2 separate regions of the Homo sapiens genome follow, and region 2 is linked to region 1. Evidence: fine-mapped expression QTL. A gene starts in region 1. The other region holds a variant in brackets. All regions are shown on one strand. Distances are from middle to middle.

What was found. PIP is the estimated chance that this variant, and not a neighbour inherited with it, causes the effect. A credible set is the group of variants that fine-mapping cannot tell apart.
Region 2: its variant is the best candidate, but not a certain one, in a credible set for the expression of PUS7 in whole blood (INTERVAL, PIP 0.74).

The regions. Positions count from the first base shown.
Region 1 is chr7:105,518,629-105,526,962 of GRCh38, reverse strand. PUS7 (pseudouridine synthase 7) reads left to right here and starts at 4,692. Exons shown (of 16, transcript NM_019042.5): 1 at 4,692-4,911. RefSeq lists enhancers at 3,427-3,927, 5,211-5,865, 6,180-6,797 and silencers at 4,564-5,313, 5,523-5,668.
Region 2 is chr7:105,543,858-105,552,191 of GRCh38, reverse strand. RINT1 (RAD50 interactor 1) reads right to left here. Exons shown (of 15, transcript NM_021930.6): 5 at 5,109-5,282; 6 at 4,859-5,008; 7 at 3,482-3,638; 8 at 2,027-2,137; 9 at 1,706-1,931; 10 at 485-622. Among named protein-coding and RNA genes, the nearest start is that of RINT1, 16 kb to the right of the region's middle. The variant G/T (reference allele first, on the strand shown) is at 4,003.

The DNA.
Region 1 (8,334 bases):
TCACCTGAGGTCCGGAGTTCAAGACCAGCCTGGCCAACATAGCGAAAACCCATCTCTACTAAAAATACAAAAATTAGCCAGGCATGGTAGCATGTACCCGTAGTCCCAGCTAATCAGGAGGCTGAGGCAGGAGAATAGCTTGAACGTGGGAGGCGGAGGTTGCAGTGAGCCAAGATCATGCCATTGCACTCCAGCCTGGGCAGCAGAGCAAGTCTCTGTCTCAAGAAAAAAAAAAAAAGAGGTGAAATGACTGCTTTTGAGAAGATGGAAACAGGTGAGGGCTGAAGTGGGAATACAGTCCCTGCTGCTTCATTGCAAACCTTACAAAGTTTCTACAGAATTATTTGACTCTAAATTACAACATGTATAACTCTGATAACAATTAAAAATAAAATTAAAGGAGAAAAAATAATGCCCTAAACCCAAATTTTGGCTTCTGAAAAATCCACTTTCTGATAAAGGAAATAGGTAAATAAATAATTTAAGATTAAGTGTATAGTTTTGACAACAGAAATGTTGGCAATGACTGAGGGAACACAGAAAACAGTGAACTACTATCTGGGGCATGGAGAAAGGCATCCGAAGTGGACAGCATAGTAGTCAATAATAAGGATGAAAGAAGAGAGAAAGTGTGTGTGATAGGCACCTAGCAATCTGTAGTGTGAGGTGGAGTTAAAAGCAGGATACTGTACGTTATACATAATAGACGTGTTAGAATGGAATTTTGAAGTTGAAGACAACATTCAACTGTTACATGTTTATTAGAAGAAGTTGATACTAGGAAGAGGTTTTGAACACTTTTGTGTTATTTTAATTAAAAAACCAATAAAGAGTTGCCCATTTTGGAAAACAGAAAACTAAAAATCCATGTTTCACTTGTACCTTGACCTAGGCAGTTTTGGCTAAAATGCAAAACGAGTAAGGTTTGTCTAAGAAACCTTAGAAATGGCCAAAGAAATGTGAAAAATCTTTCCTCTAAATCTGTTTATGAGGAGTTGGGCTGCACTCTCAGAGTTTTTTTTTTTTTTTTTGGGACGGAGTCTCGCTGTTTCACCAGGCTGGAGTGCAGTGGTGAGATGTCAGCTCACTGCAACCTCCGTCTCCCAGGTTCAAGCGATTCTCCTGCCTCAGCCTCCCAAGTAGCTGGGACTATAGGTGAGTGCCACCACACCCAGCTAATTTTTGTATTTTTAGTAGAGATGGGGTTTCACCATGTTGGCCAGGATGGTCTCGATCTCTTGGCCTTGTGATCCGCCCGCCTCAGCCTCCCAAAGTACTGGGATGACAGGTGTGAGCCACTGCACCCAGCCTCTCAGAGATTTTTTTTTTAAGCCTTTACTTTTTTAGAGCAGTTTTAGTTTACAGCAAAATTGAGAGGAAGGTATAGAGATTTCTCATATACCTCCTGACCCCACACGTGCATAGCCTCTCCCTCACCAAAGTGGTACATTTGTTATAATTGATGAACCTACATTGACACATTATCATCCAGAGTCCATAGTTTACATCACTGTTAGTTCTGTAGATCAGCAGTTCCCAATGTTTTTGGCACCAGGACTAGTTTCATGGAAGACATTTTTTCCTCAGACTAGGGGGTAGGAATGGGTTTCAGGATGAACTGTTACACCTCAGATCATCAGGCATTAGATTCTCATAAGGTGCATGCAACCTAGATCCCTCACATGTGCAGTTCACAGTAGGGTTCTCGCTCCTATCAGAATCTAATCCCACCACTGATCTGACAGGAGGCAGAGCTCAGGCGGGAATGCTGCAGTGCAGCCTGGTTCCCAAAAGGCCACACTGACTGGTACCAGTCCGTGACTTGGGGGGGCTGGGGACCCCTGTTGTAGATTTTATGGGCTTGGACAAATGTATCATGACATACAGCCAGCATTACAGTATCATACAGAATAGTTTCACTTCCCTAAAAATTCTCTGTGCTCCACCTATTCATCCTTCCCTTTCTCCTAACTCCTGGCGACCACTAATTTTATTACTGTCTTATATAGTTTTGCCTTTTTTAGAATGTCATTTTGTCATTTAGTTGGATTCATATAGCTCGTGTCCTTTTCAGATTTTTTTTGTTTTTTTTTTTTGTTGTTGTTGTTGTTGTTGTTTTCTAGACAGTCTTACTCTGTCGCTCAGGCTGGAGTGCAATAGCATGATCCCGACGCACCCCAACCTCCACCTCCCAGGTTCAAGCAATTCTCCCGCCTCAGCCTCCCGCGTAGCTGGGATTACAGGTGTGTGCCACCATGCCTGGCTAATTTTTTGTATTTTTGGTAGAGATGGGGTTTCACGGTGTTGGCCAGGCTGGTCTCGAACTCCTGACCTCAAGTGATCCACCTGCCTCAGCCTCACAAAATGCTGTGATTACAGGCCTGAGTCACCATGCCTGGCCCAGATTGGTTTCTTTCACTTAGTAATATGCGTTTAAGGCTGGGCATGGTGGCTTACGCCTGTAATCCCAGCACTTCGGGAGGCCGAGGTGGGCAGATCACCTTATCTATTTAGATCTCAGAATAAATAAATACATAAAATAAAAAATATTTATTTATGTTTCCTCCATGTCTTTTCATGGCTTGCTAAGATCATTTCTTTTTGGCACCAAATAATATTCCATTGTTTGGATACAGCACAGTTTATTCAGCTACTGAAGGACATCTTGGTCTTTTTTTTTTTGAGACGGAGTCTCACTCTGTCCCCCAGGTTGGGGTGCAGTGGCATGATCTTGGCTCACCACAACCTCTGCCTCCTGGGTTCAAGCAATTTTCTGCCTCCGCCTCCTGAGTAGCTGGGATTACAGGCGCCCACCATCACGCCTGGCTAATTTTTGTATTTTTAGTAGAGATGGGGGTTTCACCATCTTGGCCAGGCTGGTCTTGAACTCCTGACATCGTGATCTGCCCACCTCGGGCTCCCAAAGTGCTGGAATTACAGGCGTGAGCTACCATACCCGGCCCGTCCTTAAGTTTTGGCAATTATGAATAATGCAGCTATAAACATACTTGTGCAGGTTTTTGTGTGAACATAGTTTTCAACTCCTTTAGGTAAATATCAAGGAGTGTAATTGCTGAATTGTATGGTAATAATATATTTCTTTTTTTTTTTTTGAGACAGAGTTTCCATCTTGTTGCCCAAGCTAGAGTGCAATGGTGCGATCTCAGCTCACTGCAACCTCCGCCTCCTGAGTTCAAGCGATTCTCCTGCCTCAGCCTCCCAAGTAGCTGGGATTACAGGCGCGTGCCACCACGTCTGGGTAATTTTTTGTATTTTTAGTAGAGACGGGGTTTCACCATGTTGGCCAGGCTGGTCTCAAACTCCTGACCTCATGATCCGCCCACCTCGGCCTCCCAAAGTGCTGGGATTACAGGCGTGAGCCACTGCGCCCGGCCGGTAATAGTATATTTCATTGTGTAAAAAACAAAACAAAAAAACAAATTGGGCAGGGCATGGTGGCTCATGCCTATAATCCCAGTACTTTGGGAGGCCTAGGCAGGCAAATCACTTGAGGTCAGGAGTTCAAGGCCAACAGGCAAAAACCCCGTCAAAAAAATTAGTCTGGCATGATGTCAAGCACTCGTAGGCCCAGCTACTCGGGAGGCTGATGCAGGAGAATCGCTTGAACCCTGCAACAGAGTGAGACTCTCTCTCAAACAAAATAAAACAAAACGGAAAAACTATTAGAGGCTGGGAGCGGTGGCTCACGCCTGTAATCTCAACACAGAGGCGGAGGCGGGCGGATCACGAAGTCAAGAGTTCGAGACCAGCCTGGCCAACATAGTGAAACCCCGTACTCTACTAAAAATACAAAAAATAAGCCGGGCATGGTGGCGTGCGCCAGTAATCCCAGCTACTCGGGAGGCTGAGGCAGGAGAATCGCTTGAACCCGGGTGGCGGAGGTTGCGGTGAGCAGCGATCGCGCCATTGCACTCCAGCCTGGGCGACAGAGCAAGACTCCGTCTCAAAAAACAAACAAACAAACAAAAAGCAAAAAAACTATTAGAGCCTGGGCAACATAGTGAAATCTTGTCTCTACCCCCCACCCCCAAAAAAATTAGCCTGGGTGCGGTGGGATGCACCTGTAGTCCCAGCTACTTGGGATACTGAAGTGGGAGGATTGCTTGAGCCTGGGAGGTCGAGGCTGCAGTGAACTGTGTTCACGCCACCGCACTCCAGCCTGTGCGACAGAGCGAGACTCTGTCAAAACCAAACCAAACCAAAACAAAAAAAACCTATGATCCGGTTTCTTGAAGCAGATCCTATGGCAAGCCATCAAGCCAGAGCGGTAAGAAGTAGGAAGATGGTGCTTTTAGATCCACTACATTCCCAGGATCAAATGTAGAACAATATTTAGTCCCTAAAGTGATTCTCTTTCCATTATTGTCAACTGCGTGGTCGGTGCAACGTGAAAGGGCCACAACTATGTGAAGGAAACACTTAGAATATAACACCAAAGGAGGCAATCGCTGCCTTAGACTTCCTAAAGATCTAAAGAACTCTTAGATGCTTGGTGAAATCGCTCTCTGCCGCTGGTGCGACTCAGGCGCGGTCGCGAGGAAGGTCCAGGGTGAACGCGCGTAGGCTGGGAGTCCGCGTTGGGGCGCTCCCTGGCTTGCAGGCCGCTCCGAGTGGGTGGGCCGGGGGCGGGGCCGGCGGCAGGGAGCGGACTCCGCCCCCGGGGCGGGTCCAGTCGGGCCGCGGCGCGTCGCTGCGCCGCACGTGTGCGAGCCCGGCCGCCGGTGAGTCGGCTGGAGCGCATCTGGTCCTCCGCGCGGAAAGCGCTGCTTTTGCCTGGCCGCCCTAGCCGCTGGCTCATCCAAGTGGCCTTCGCCGCTCTCTTGCGTCCCAACCAGAGCGCTGGCCACCTCGCCGCCCAGCTCACGCCGCGCCCGCGCTCCCAGGCTCCGGGTAAGTGCGCGGCCTCCCCGCGGCCGCCGGGGCTCCTCGGCCTGGCCCTGGCCCCAGCCCCAGCCCCAGGGCCCCGCCCCAAGAGGCAGTGCGGACTGGGAAGGCGGACTGGGAAGGCGGCCCCGCAGTGGTCAGAGCCCGCGGCGCCTCCATTATGGATCGTGCCAGCGGGAGCACGGTTGGAACCCAGTGGGTCCTGCGCTTCGGCGGTGCAGGCGCCGCTCTCCGCTCCCCGCTCCCCGCTCCGCTCTGCCCGGCCAGTCGTCCGGAGGCGCCGCGCCCGAGCGCTCCCCTCCTCCCCGCGCGGCGCTGTCCCCCGGGGGCCCCCTTCCCACTCCTCCCTTTCTTTGCCCCGGACGCTCCCTAAACTCTTGTCCCTCCGTCAGAGGAACACTGGCCCTGAAGCCCTTCACGGTGCCACTGCTTCGCCGCGCCTGCCTTCTGTGGGTCCAGCCCACGTGTTCCACCCCTGTGTCCTGCGTCGCCGCTCACTGGGAGCCTACTAGGCGCCACGCGGGCTCTGGGGACTGCTTGCTTTGTATGCATTTCCCAGAGTAGGAGTGGACGGGCTGCAGACTCAGAGTGCTTTCTCCAGCCCTCAAGCTGGGTGAATGCTTAACGAGTGGATGGAGGTGCTGCTGTGCAAGCTGAAATTCGAGTCCTCCTCGTCAGCCCTGCGCAGAGGTGTTTAGAAGCACACCTTCGTTGCCTGCCGAGTAGGGTTGGCAAAGAGTTTAGTTTTTAAAATATTTGGTCCCGTCAGACTACTTTTTTTTTCCATTCCAAAAATAAAGGGTTACTAAGGTTCCCTCCCCCCCATCCCCAAGCCTCTAATCATCTATGAAATGACTATGCCCCATTGGCCTGGGGGAGCCTCGACTATTGAGGGATCTGTCGAAAATCAGACTGTACAACACTATTGAAAAGGGGTTGGTTAGGCAATTGTTAGGTTCAAACATTAGGAAAGTAGCCAACAGTACGTACTTAACAACTCCTTGTGAACATGTTTTTGGTTTTTTTATTTTTATTTTTTTAATTTTTTTGAGACAGAATTTTGCTCTTGTTGCCCAGGCTGGAGTGCAGTTGCGTGATCATCGCTCACTGCAGCCTTGAACTCCTGGGCTCAAGCAATCCTCTCACCTCAGCCTCCCAAGTAGCTGGGACTATAGGCATGTGCCACCACACAGGGTCTCGCTGTGTTGCCCAGCCTGGCCTCAAACTCCTGACCTTAAGCAATCCTCCTGCTTTGACCTCCCAAAGTGCTGGAATTACAGGCTTGAGCAACCACACTCGGCCTTGAACATATCTTTGTTTTTTGATTTATTTTTTTTAGACGGAGTCTCACTCCATCACCCAGGCTGGAGTGCAATGGCACGATCTTGGCTCACTGCAACCTCAGCCTCCTGGGTTCAAGCGATTCTCCTGCCTCAGCCTCCGGAGTAGCTGGGATTACATGTGCACGCCACCATGCCCAGCTAATTTTTGTATTTTTATTTATTTATTTATTTATTTATTTATTTATTTATTTATTTTGAGACAGTCTCGCTCTGTCGCCCACATGTATTGCAGAGGCAGCACCTCCATCCACTCGTTAAGCATTCACCCAGCTTGAGGGCTGGAGATGTATTGCAGTGGCGCGATCTCGGCTCACTGCAGGCTCCGCCTCCCGGGTTCACGCCATTCTCCTGCCTCAGCCTCCCGAGTAGCTGGGACTACAGGCGCCCGCCACCACGCCCGGCTAATTTTTTATATTTTTAGTAGAGGCGGGGTTTCACTGTGTTAGCCAGGATGGTCTCGATTTCCTGACCTCATGATCTGCCCGCCTCTGCCTCCCAAAGTGCTGGGATTACAGGCGTGAGCCACCGCGCCCCGCCTAATTTTTGTATTTTTAGTAGAGACGGGGTTTCACCATGTTGGCCAGGCTGGTCTTGAACTTCAGACTTCAGGTGATCCACCCGCCTCAGCCTTCCGAAGTGCTGGGATTACAGGCGTGTGCCATCACACCCGGCCTTGAACGTGTCTTTTGATAGAGGCAGGGGCATGCATGTACTGTATTAATGAAGCAGCGTTTTTCCTTACCTAGGAGAGAGAGAGAACAATCCAGCTGGTCATACTGTCGACTAAGTTTGCTCCGGTTTCAGGTCCTTTACACGTGCTGTTCGGGCTGCCTGGAGCTCTCCTCACACACATCTTTTCCTGTCTGGTTCTTCCTTGTCTTTGCTCAGAAGTCTCCTCCTTAGACGAGGCATCACTGAAGAACACCCCTCTTACTCTCAGCCCCTTACCCTGTTTTAATTCTTTGGAGCTCGCATGTCCTGAGATTTATTTTGTTCTCAGATATATTCTCAAATACATTGTAAGCTACATGAGGACAGGAAATGGTATTACCCTTTTCTTCCAGTACCTACAACAATGCCAGACACATAGGACACTTGCTCAGTAAATATTTGCAGAATGAATGACCCTCATAGACTTAATGATTTTGCATATTAGAATGCAGTGTGTCTGCCGGGCCTGGTGACATCATGCCTGTAATCCCAGCACTCTGGGAGGCCGAGGCAGGCAGCTCGTTTGAGGTCAGGTCAGTAGTTTGAGACCATCCTGGCCAACATGGCGAAACCCCCTCTCTACTAAAAATACAAAAATTAGCTGGATGTGGTAATTTTAGCCCATGCCTGTAATCCCAGCTACTCGGGAGGCTGAGGTAGGAGAATCGCCGGAACGCTGGAAGTGGAGATTGCGGTGAGCCGAGACTGCACCACTGCACTCCAGCCTGGGCAACAGAGGAAAACTCCATCTCCAAAAAAAAAAAAATTAGTGTGTTCTCTGTGCTCTGGCCCTAAAGAAAATGCTCACTATTGTGAGAGCTATAGAGATTACTGATAATTTGCAGGGGATGGAGGAAAGATGTATTTACAAAGTGAAAGTTGTGGATAGTTTTGAAATATAATATGATAGAATTAAGACTAATGGCTGTTTTTGTAGGCTGGGCGCGGTGGCTCAGGCCTGTAATCCCAGCCCTTTGGGAGACCGAGGCGGGCGAATCATGAGGTCAGGAGTTCGAGACAATCTTGGATAACACGGTGAAAGCCCATCTCTATTAAAAATACAAAAAATTAGCCTGGTGTTGTGGCGGGCGCCTGTAATCCCAGCTACTCAGGAGGCTGAGGCAGGAGAATCTCGTGTACCCGGGAGGCAGAGGTTGCAGTGAGCCGAGATTGCGCCACTGCACTCCAGCCTGGGCAATAGAGTGAGACTCCGTCTCAAAAAATATACAAAATAAAATAAAAAATAATTCAAAAAAAGACTAATGGCTGTTTTTCTGATGTTTATTTTGGAGGAATTAATTAATAAGGGACTGTTTGGCCTGGGCGGTGGTGCACACCTGTAATCCCAGTTGAGGCAGGGCAGATCACTTGAGCT
Region 2 (8,334 bases), 25 kb before region 1:
AATTATTAAAAACCCAAAAGTTAGAATATTGTGTTAGATTTCTACCAATATAGAAACTGAATTTGAAGATAACAACCATCATATAATATTAATTTGCTGAGCCACTTATTTATTGATTACTTTATTGACAGGGTCTCACTCTGTCACCAAGGCTGGACTGCAGTGGCGTGATCATGGCTCACTGCAACCTCTACCTCCCATGCTCAAAAAATCCTCCCACCTCAGCCTCCCAAGTAGCTGGGACTACAGGCACACACCACCACAACTGGCTAATTTCTGTATTTTTTCGGAAGAGAGGGCATTTCACCATGTACCCCAGGCTGTTCTCGAACTCCTGGGCTCAAGCAACCTGCCCGTCTCAGCCTCTCAAAGTGCTAGGATTACAGGCATGAGCCACTGCACCCAGCCTACTGAGCTACTTTAAAAACTACCACGTGAAAACAGTACTTTTAAAACAAAGTCATATCTTAAAAGACATACTTACCAGTTATAACCAAGAGTAGAGTCATAAAAGTTTCTGCACAATCTGGAACTTTCATTTCATCCACGTCAGTGATATCCTTATATTGCGATACCCAGGCAGCTTCTGAGGAAAGCATTGAGTCCATTTTTTGAAGAGCAACTGATAAGCAGACAAAACAATTATGTCAATTAAGTAGTTACAGTCGTTCCTAATTATTCAACTTGTAATTTTTTAGGAATGATGGCTTTTCTATAAAAAAGAAACAAACCTACAATATCCCACTGGTTGTACTAAATTTAACTTAATTAATGCTTTAAACAGGATACTTTACTCCCATCCCCAAATTCTGAAAATAGTTATGTTGACTAGATAAGCTACAGTAAAAAATATTCTATTGGCCAGGCACGGTGGCTCACACCAGTAATCCCAGCACTCCAGGAGGCCAAGGTGGGTGGATTGCTTGAGTCTAGGAGTTCACAACCAGCTTGGGCAAAACCCCAGGGAAACCCCATCTCTACAAAAAATACAAAAAGTAGCCAGGCATGGCTTGCATATACCTATACTCCCAGCTACTGGGGTGGCTGAGGCAGGAGGATCACCTGAGCCCCAGAGGTCGAGGCTGCAGTAAGCCATGATCGGCCCACTCCACTCTAGCCTCGGTGACAAAGTGAGACCCTATCTCAAAAATAAAAAAATAAAATATTCTGACACTTTGGGAGGCCAAGGCAGGTGGATTACTTGAAGTCAGGAGTTCCAGACCAGCCTGGCCAACATGTTGTAACCCTGTCACTCCTAAAAACAGAAAAATTAGCCAGGCGTGGTAGTGCGTGCCTGTAATCCTAACTACTCGGGAGGCTGAGACAGGAGAATCGCTTGAACGCAGGGGGTGGAGGTTGCAATGAGCTGAGATCAAACTACTGCACTTTAGCCTGGACAACAGAGCAAGAGTCTGTCCCAAAATAAATAAATAAAAATAAAATAAATTATATGATAAAATCTATAAAACAAACACCCCACTGGCTTGACTATTCCACTCTAGAAATATGTAGAGTGTAATTTCAGGAAAAATGGAAGTTTCATGTGAAGTAAAGAAAAGATTATCTCTGAAGGAAACAGAAAACCCTGAAAAGGAAATTTCAAATGGCTCTAGTTCCTATTTAGAACTGGAGAAGAAAAATATCAAAAATGTATACCCACAGAAACAGACATATCTCCCTACCATCTGGCCACATCAGCACTTACATTTTCTCTCCACCGTCAACCATCTCTGAAAACAGGTTTCCTCTGATAGAATATGCATACAACTAGCAAAAGTGCCAGGATAGCCATGAACACTGTGTAGCTCCCTTTCAAACAAGAGTACTTCATCCACCAAATGACAGAAGAGATTGTCATCATATAGCAGACAAGGAATATCAGTGGCTAACTTCTCAAGAACCAGCATCATAAGGCCCCGAGAAAATTCAAGCTAAAAAAATACACAAACATGAGGTATGTAAATAAAAAGTTATCCATGCACACATACAGTTCTAAAACAGAAACACTTATGACTGAGTCTCTTACCCTTGCGTTTACCAAAGAGCCTACTTTGTCTAATATTGGCTGAATCTTCTCATCCAGAAATTCAGTATGGTTTCCAATCCACATAAGTACTTGAGCCAAGTACCATTCTGGCTAAGGAAGGAGGAAAATAGTTTGAATTCTTAAGTCATTCCAATTAGAAAGTTACAATTACATGGTTCTATTTAATTGTATATGCACAACACTTATAAAAATTAGTTGAAAATTCCTGTATGTAAGAGCACAATTTCTACTCCAAATTTTAAACTCCTGCAAGGCTTAATAATCAAATGTTTGCTAATGTACTCCCAACAAATTTCAATAATATGACTTAAGTCAATAAACTCATAAATTTACAATGCCATATATATTTAAAACCTAGCACTTCAATAATATGTAAAATGATGAGTATTACAAAGAACTGATGGCCTATATTTTTTGAAATAGCATTTGAAAATAATTTTAATATTATTTTCTTATGGTTTTTATTTTCAAAAAGTAAATCAAGAAAAAAATTGCTGGCCAGGCGTGGCAGCTCATGCCTGTAATCCCAGCACTTTGGGAGGCCGAGGTGGGTGGATCAGCTGAGGTCAGAAGTTCAAGACCAGACTGGTCAACATGGTGAAACCCCGTCTCACCTAAATATACAAAAATTAGCTGGGCGTGGTGGTGGGCACCTGTAATCCCAGCTACTCAAGAGGCTGAGGCAGGAGAATCGCTTGAACGCGGGAGGCAGAGGTTGCAGTGAGCCGAGATCACACCATTGCGCTCCAGCCTGGGCAACAAGAGTGAAACTTCGTTCCAAAAAAAAAAAATTGCTAGTCTGCATTACAAAAACTACGCATGTCTTATACAGGTTTAAGAGCAGAAATACCAAGTACATGCCAGGCGCAGTGGCTCACTCCTGTAATCCCAGCACTTTGGGAGGCTAAGTCAGGTGGATCACCTGAGGTCAGGAGTTCCAGACCAGCCTGACCAATATGGTGAAACCCATCTCTACTAAAATTACAAAAATTAGTCCAGTGTGGTGACATGTGCCTGTAGTCCCAGCTACTTGGGAGGCTGAGGCAGGAGAATCGCTTGAACCTGGGAGGTGGAGGTTGCAGTGAGCAGAGATTGTGCCACTGCACTCCAGCCTGGGTGACAGAGCGAGACTCCAACTCACAAAAAAAAAAAAAGAAAAGAAATACCAAGTGCTTACTATTTGCTTTGCTTTGTTTTGCAATGATAACTCAGCAATATCTGATGCCCAAGAGCGGAAATACCATTTTTCCTACAGTATATGAACACAAGTCCTCAATTATATGTATGAACAGCAGTAACAAAACAGGAATGTAGCCCTTTAGAAAAAAAACAGAAATGTGAAGAGAGTCAGATTTTAACTTAAACCAGCAAAGGTATAGAAACTCTAACATTTGTTACCAATAAAAACCAAGGACAAGAGCTGGCAAAACACACCTTGCTTAACACATTAGTCTGCCGGTTCCCTCTGAAGTGATACCTGAACCTCTTCTGAAGAGGAGTCAGCATAACCTGGATGGGCAGGATGACAGAAGGGGAGGCAGGAAGAGAGTATTTTTCTGGGAGTTGCTTTGGCTCAGTAAGTAATTCATCTCTGACATAATCAAGTCAAGGAAAAAGAATCAAAAGCATACCTAATATACACACACATATGTATGTATACACACACAATAAATTTTTCCAACAAATGTATCAGATACTCAGTAGAGTTAATTATGATGCAAATAATATGTAACCTAATTTTATATTGAATAAACATACAGTTAATTCTTTATATTGAATATACATTCAGTTAAAATGCACAAAAAGCCAGGCATGATGATAGTGAATCATGCCTGTAATCCCAGCACTTTGGGAGGCTGAAGCAGGCTAATCACTTGGGCCACTTCACAGGAATTTGAGACGTGCCTAGGCAATACGGCAAAACCCTATCTCTACAAAAAACAACAAAAATTAGC[G/T]GGGCATGGTGGCACGTGCCTGTAGTCCCAGCTACACAGGAAGAAGAGGTGGGAGAATCAACTGAGCCTGGGTGGTCAAGGCTGCAGTGAGCCATGACTGCACCACTGCACTTCAGCCTGGGTGACAAAGTGAGACCATGTCTTTAAAAAAAGCACAAAAATGAGCCAGGTGCAGTGGCTCTCACCTGTAATCCCAGCACTTTGGGAAGCTGAGGCGGGTGGATCACCTGAGGTCAGGAGTTCGAGGCCAGCCTGACCAACATGGAAAAACCCCGTCTCTACTAAAAATACAAAATTAGCTGGGCATAGTGGTGCACGCCTGTAATCCCAGCTACTCGGGAGGCTGAGGCAGGAGAATCGCTTGAACCCGGGAGGTGGAGGCTGTGGTGAGCCGAGATCATGAGATCACGCCACTTCATTCCAGCCTGGGCAACAAGAGCGAAACTCCATCTCAAAAAAAAAAAAAAAAAAGCACAAAAATGGTATTAGAATTAATCTATAAATCTTTCCTAAAATAGTAACAAAAAAAATTCAAGTATCATTTGATTAAATTCACGCTATGACACTAAAGGTTTCCTCCCAATTGCCCATTTGTTCTGTTGCCCCAAGAGACCTTTTTGTGCTATGAACTTGGATCAGTCATGTATCCCGGAACTCTTCCTTACAGCCCTCACACCTACAAGCAATTCACTTTGCAAGAGTACAGTCCACCACTCAGTGGACATTTACAGACCAAGTCCAAACACAGGATTCTTATTTGGCTTTCTTGGCCACTTTGAAAAAGTTTTACTCTCTAGCCACAAACCCATTCTAGAAAAAAGAAATTTTAGTAAGTTTTCAGCTGCAACAAAGATACGAGGTTTGTAGTTTCAAAAGCTGACAAAACAGTGTCTCCAGGTAACTGTATATCTCCGGGGCACTGGCAGGTCGACTTAAGCCAACAGTTTGTGATTGAGGGGGTGCGATGAATGGCCAATGAAGCTGTGCTAAAATTTCCTCAAAATCACTGCAATGGAAAAGTAACACATACATTTCAGTACATCACCAAATGATCACCAAATACCCATCGGAAAGCAATTACCACAAAATATGGGTAAATTCCCTACCTTGTAAGCTTGTCCTTGAGAATTTTATGCCAGAATTTAACTGTGGCTCTCATGAAACCAAGAAGATGAGTACAAGATGATTCCTGAAGTTTAATGTCAAGTTCTGCCATAGACACTAGAGTGGAGGCTGCCTCCGGTACATTATTGGTCATCAGATATTGCTGAATGTTATCACTGTAAACAAAGTAAAGCAAATTTTTTTTTCTTTTGAGACAGAGTCTCACTCTGTTGCCCAGGTTGGAGTGCAGTGGCATGATTTGGCTCAATGCAAATTCTGTGTCCCAGGTTCAAGTGATTCTCCCGCCTCAGCCTCCACAGTAGCTGGGATTACAGGCATGCGCCCCCATGCCTGGCTAAATTTTTTGTATTTTTAGTAGAGACAGGGTTTCACCATGTTGGCCAAGCTGGTCTTGAACTCCTGACCTCAAGTGATCCGACCGCCTCGGCCTCCCAAAGTGCTGGGATTAGAGGCGTGAGTCACCGTGCCCAGCCGAAAGCAAATTTAAAGAACGGATTGCTCAGAATAATTTCAAATTCGGAAAAAGTGCTTCTTCTTCATGTTTTATATAAAGTTACATCCAAGGAAGAATGAAGCACCACCCTGAGGTAGCCTTTGTTTTTTAACAAAGCACCACCCTGAGGCCTTTTACCAAGGCCTCTCTGGGAGCCTAGAGTCCTCTACTTCTGCATTCTTCTAAGAGCAGCAGCCTGCAGCCTATGTTCAAGACCTCTCCCGGGACCTTTCCCTTCCTACTCCTCCTGACAGACCTGTTTTGTGTCATATTCCTTTGGGCACCACTCATTTCTGATAAATCTGCCTTTTACAAAGTCTTCAGTATCTTAATCCAAGGGAATAATGTGGTAGTATCTGGTAAAGTCAAGTATGATGGTCTTCAATTGTTACATACTTTGCCCAGCTGAACTTGATTTCCCACTTCAAAGAAATATAATTCCAGGCGGGGCTTGGTGGCTCAACCCTGTAATCCCAGCACTTTGGGAGGCCAACATGGGTGGATCTCCGGAGGTCAGGAGTTTGAGACCAGCCTGGCCAACTTGGTGAAACGCCCCCCGCCCCCCCTTCCCCATCCCCCATCTCTACTAAAAATATAAAAACTAGCCAGGCATGGTGGTGGGCACCTGTAATCCCAGCTACTCGGGAGGCTGAGGCAGGAGAACTGCTTGAACCCGGGAGGCGGAGGTTGCAGTGAGCCAAGATCATGCCACTGCACTCTAGCCTGGCAACAGAGTGAGACTCCGTCTCAAAGAAAAAGAGGCCAGGCGTGGTGGCCTCTTTGGGAGGCCAACATGGGTGGATCACCGGAGGTCAGGAGTTCGAGACCAGCCTGGCCAACTTGGTGAAACCCTTCCCGTCTCTACTAAAAATATAAAAACTAGCCAGGCGTGGTCATGGGCACCTGTAATCCCAGCTACTCAGGAGGCTGAGGCAGGAGAATTGCTTGAACCCAGAAGACAGAGGTTGCAGTGAGCTGACAGGGTGCCGCTGCACTCCAGCCTCAGCAACAGAGTAAGACTCCATCTCAAAAAAAAAAAAATATATATATATATATACAAATATTACAGAAGAATTTCAAATGTACAAACAGAATATGAGTACTGCCTTTTTTTTTTTTTTAAAAGAGTCTCACTCTGTCACCTAGGCTGCAGTGCAGTGGTACAATCACGGCTCATTGCAATCTTAACCTCTCGGGGCTCAAGCGATCCTCCTACCTCAGCCTCCCGAGTAGCTGGGACTATGGGTGCTCACCACCAAGCCTGGCTGATTTTTTTTTTTTTAAACAGAGATGGGGTTTTGCCATGTTGCCCAGACTGGTCACAGAATTCAGAGCTCAAGCGATCTGCCCACCTCAGCCTCTCAAAGTGCTAGGACTACGGCATGAGCCACCATGCCCGGCAGGAGTACTGCTTTTAAGGAAGGAATGAAATAGATTTCCTCACAACACTAAAGTATGAATGACATTTACAACATAGGAAAAGCTAGAGAAACAAGGTTCACTCAGAGTGATAGTGCTATACTATAGTATCCAAGAAACAGAGCTAATGTAAGGATGCTAATTCTAGCAAGAAGAAACTACTTGAAAAAAAGACAATGTACATCAGAATAAAAATAGGCCATTATAAAAAAATTTAGAGATGAAGAAAATCCCAGAAGCTCTAAAGGAAAGCTGGAAATGGAGAGATTATCATAAAAGACCTCAGGGAAATAACACATTATTAAAGACAGAAAAATAACTGTGCTCTACCTGCTTATGAATTTGATCCCTATTTCTAATATAAATCCCTCGGCATATTTCCCTTATAAACAATTCAGATATCTGAAGAGTTTATCAAGGCCAGGTGCAGTGGCTCACACCTGTAATCCCAGCACTTTGGGAGGCCAAGGCAGGCAGATGACTTGAGGTCAGGAGTTCAAGACCAGCCTAGCCAACATAGTGAAACCCTATCTCTACTAAAAATACAAAAATTAGCTGGGCGTGGTGGCATACACCTGTAGTCCTAGCTACTCGGGAGGCCAAGGCAGGAGAATCGCTTGAACCCGGGAGGTGGAGGTTGCAGTGAGCTGAGATTGTGCCACTGCACTCCAGCCTGGGCAACAGAGGAAGATTCCAACTCAAAAAAAAATAAAAAGAAAATTAAAATAAATAAAATAAATGTTAAAAAAAAGAAGAAAAAAGAAAAGTTTATCAATAACCATGGACCTAATTTAGTTAATCTATTACTTTGGCTACTACAAGAGTGAGGTTTTCAAATAACGTATTTTACTTAATAAAGTTATTAACATTGCCCCTTACTGATATTTCCTTTCTGAGGGACAAGGAGAAATGCAGTAAAATAAAGCAAGGTTTAAAATTCCTTCACTGCAAATAATTTATCTAAACAAGAATGAGATGTTCTAAACCACTTTATATGTAAAACTCCTCATACATGCAAAACAAAGTTTTTTTGTTTTTTTTGTTTTTTTTTTGAGACGGAGTTTCGCTCTTGCTGCCTAGGCTGCAGTGCAATGGCACAACCTCAGCTCACTGCAACCTCTGCCTCCCGAGTCCAAGCAATTCCCCTGCCTCAGCCTCCCAAGTAGCTGGGATTACAGGCACGCGCCACCATGCCTGGCTAATTTCTTTTTTTTTTTTGTATTTTTAGTAGAGACGGGGTTTCACCATGTTGGTCAGGCTGGTCTCAAACTCCTGACCTCGTGATCTGCCCGCCT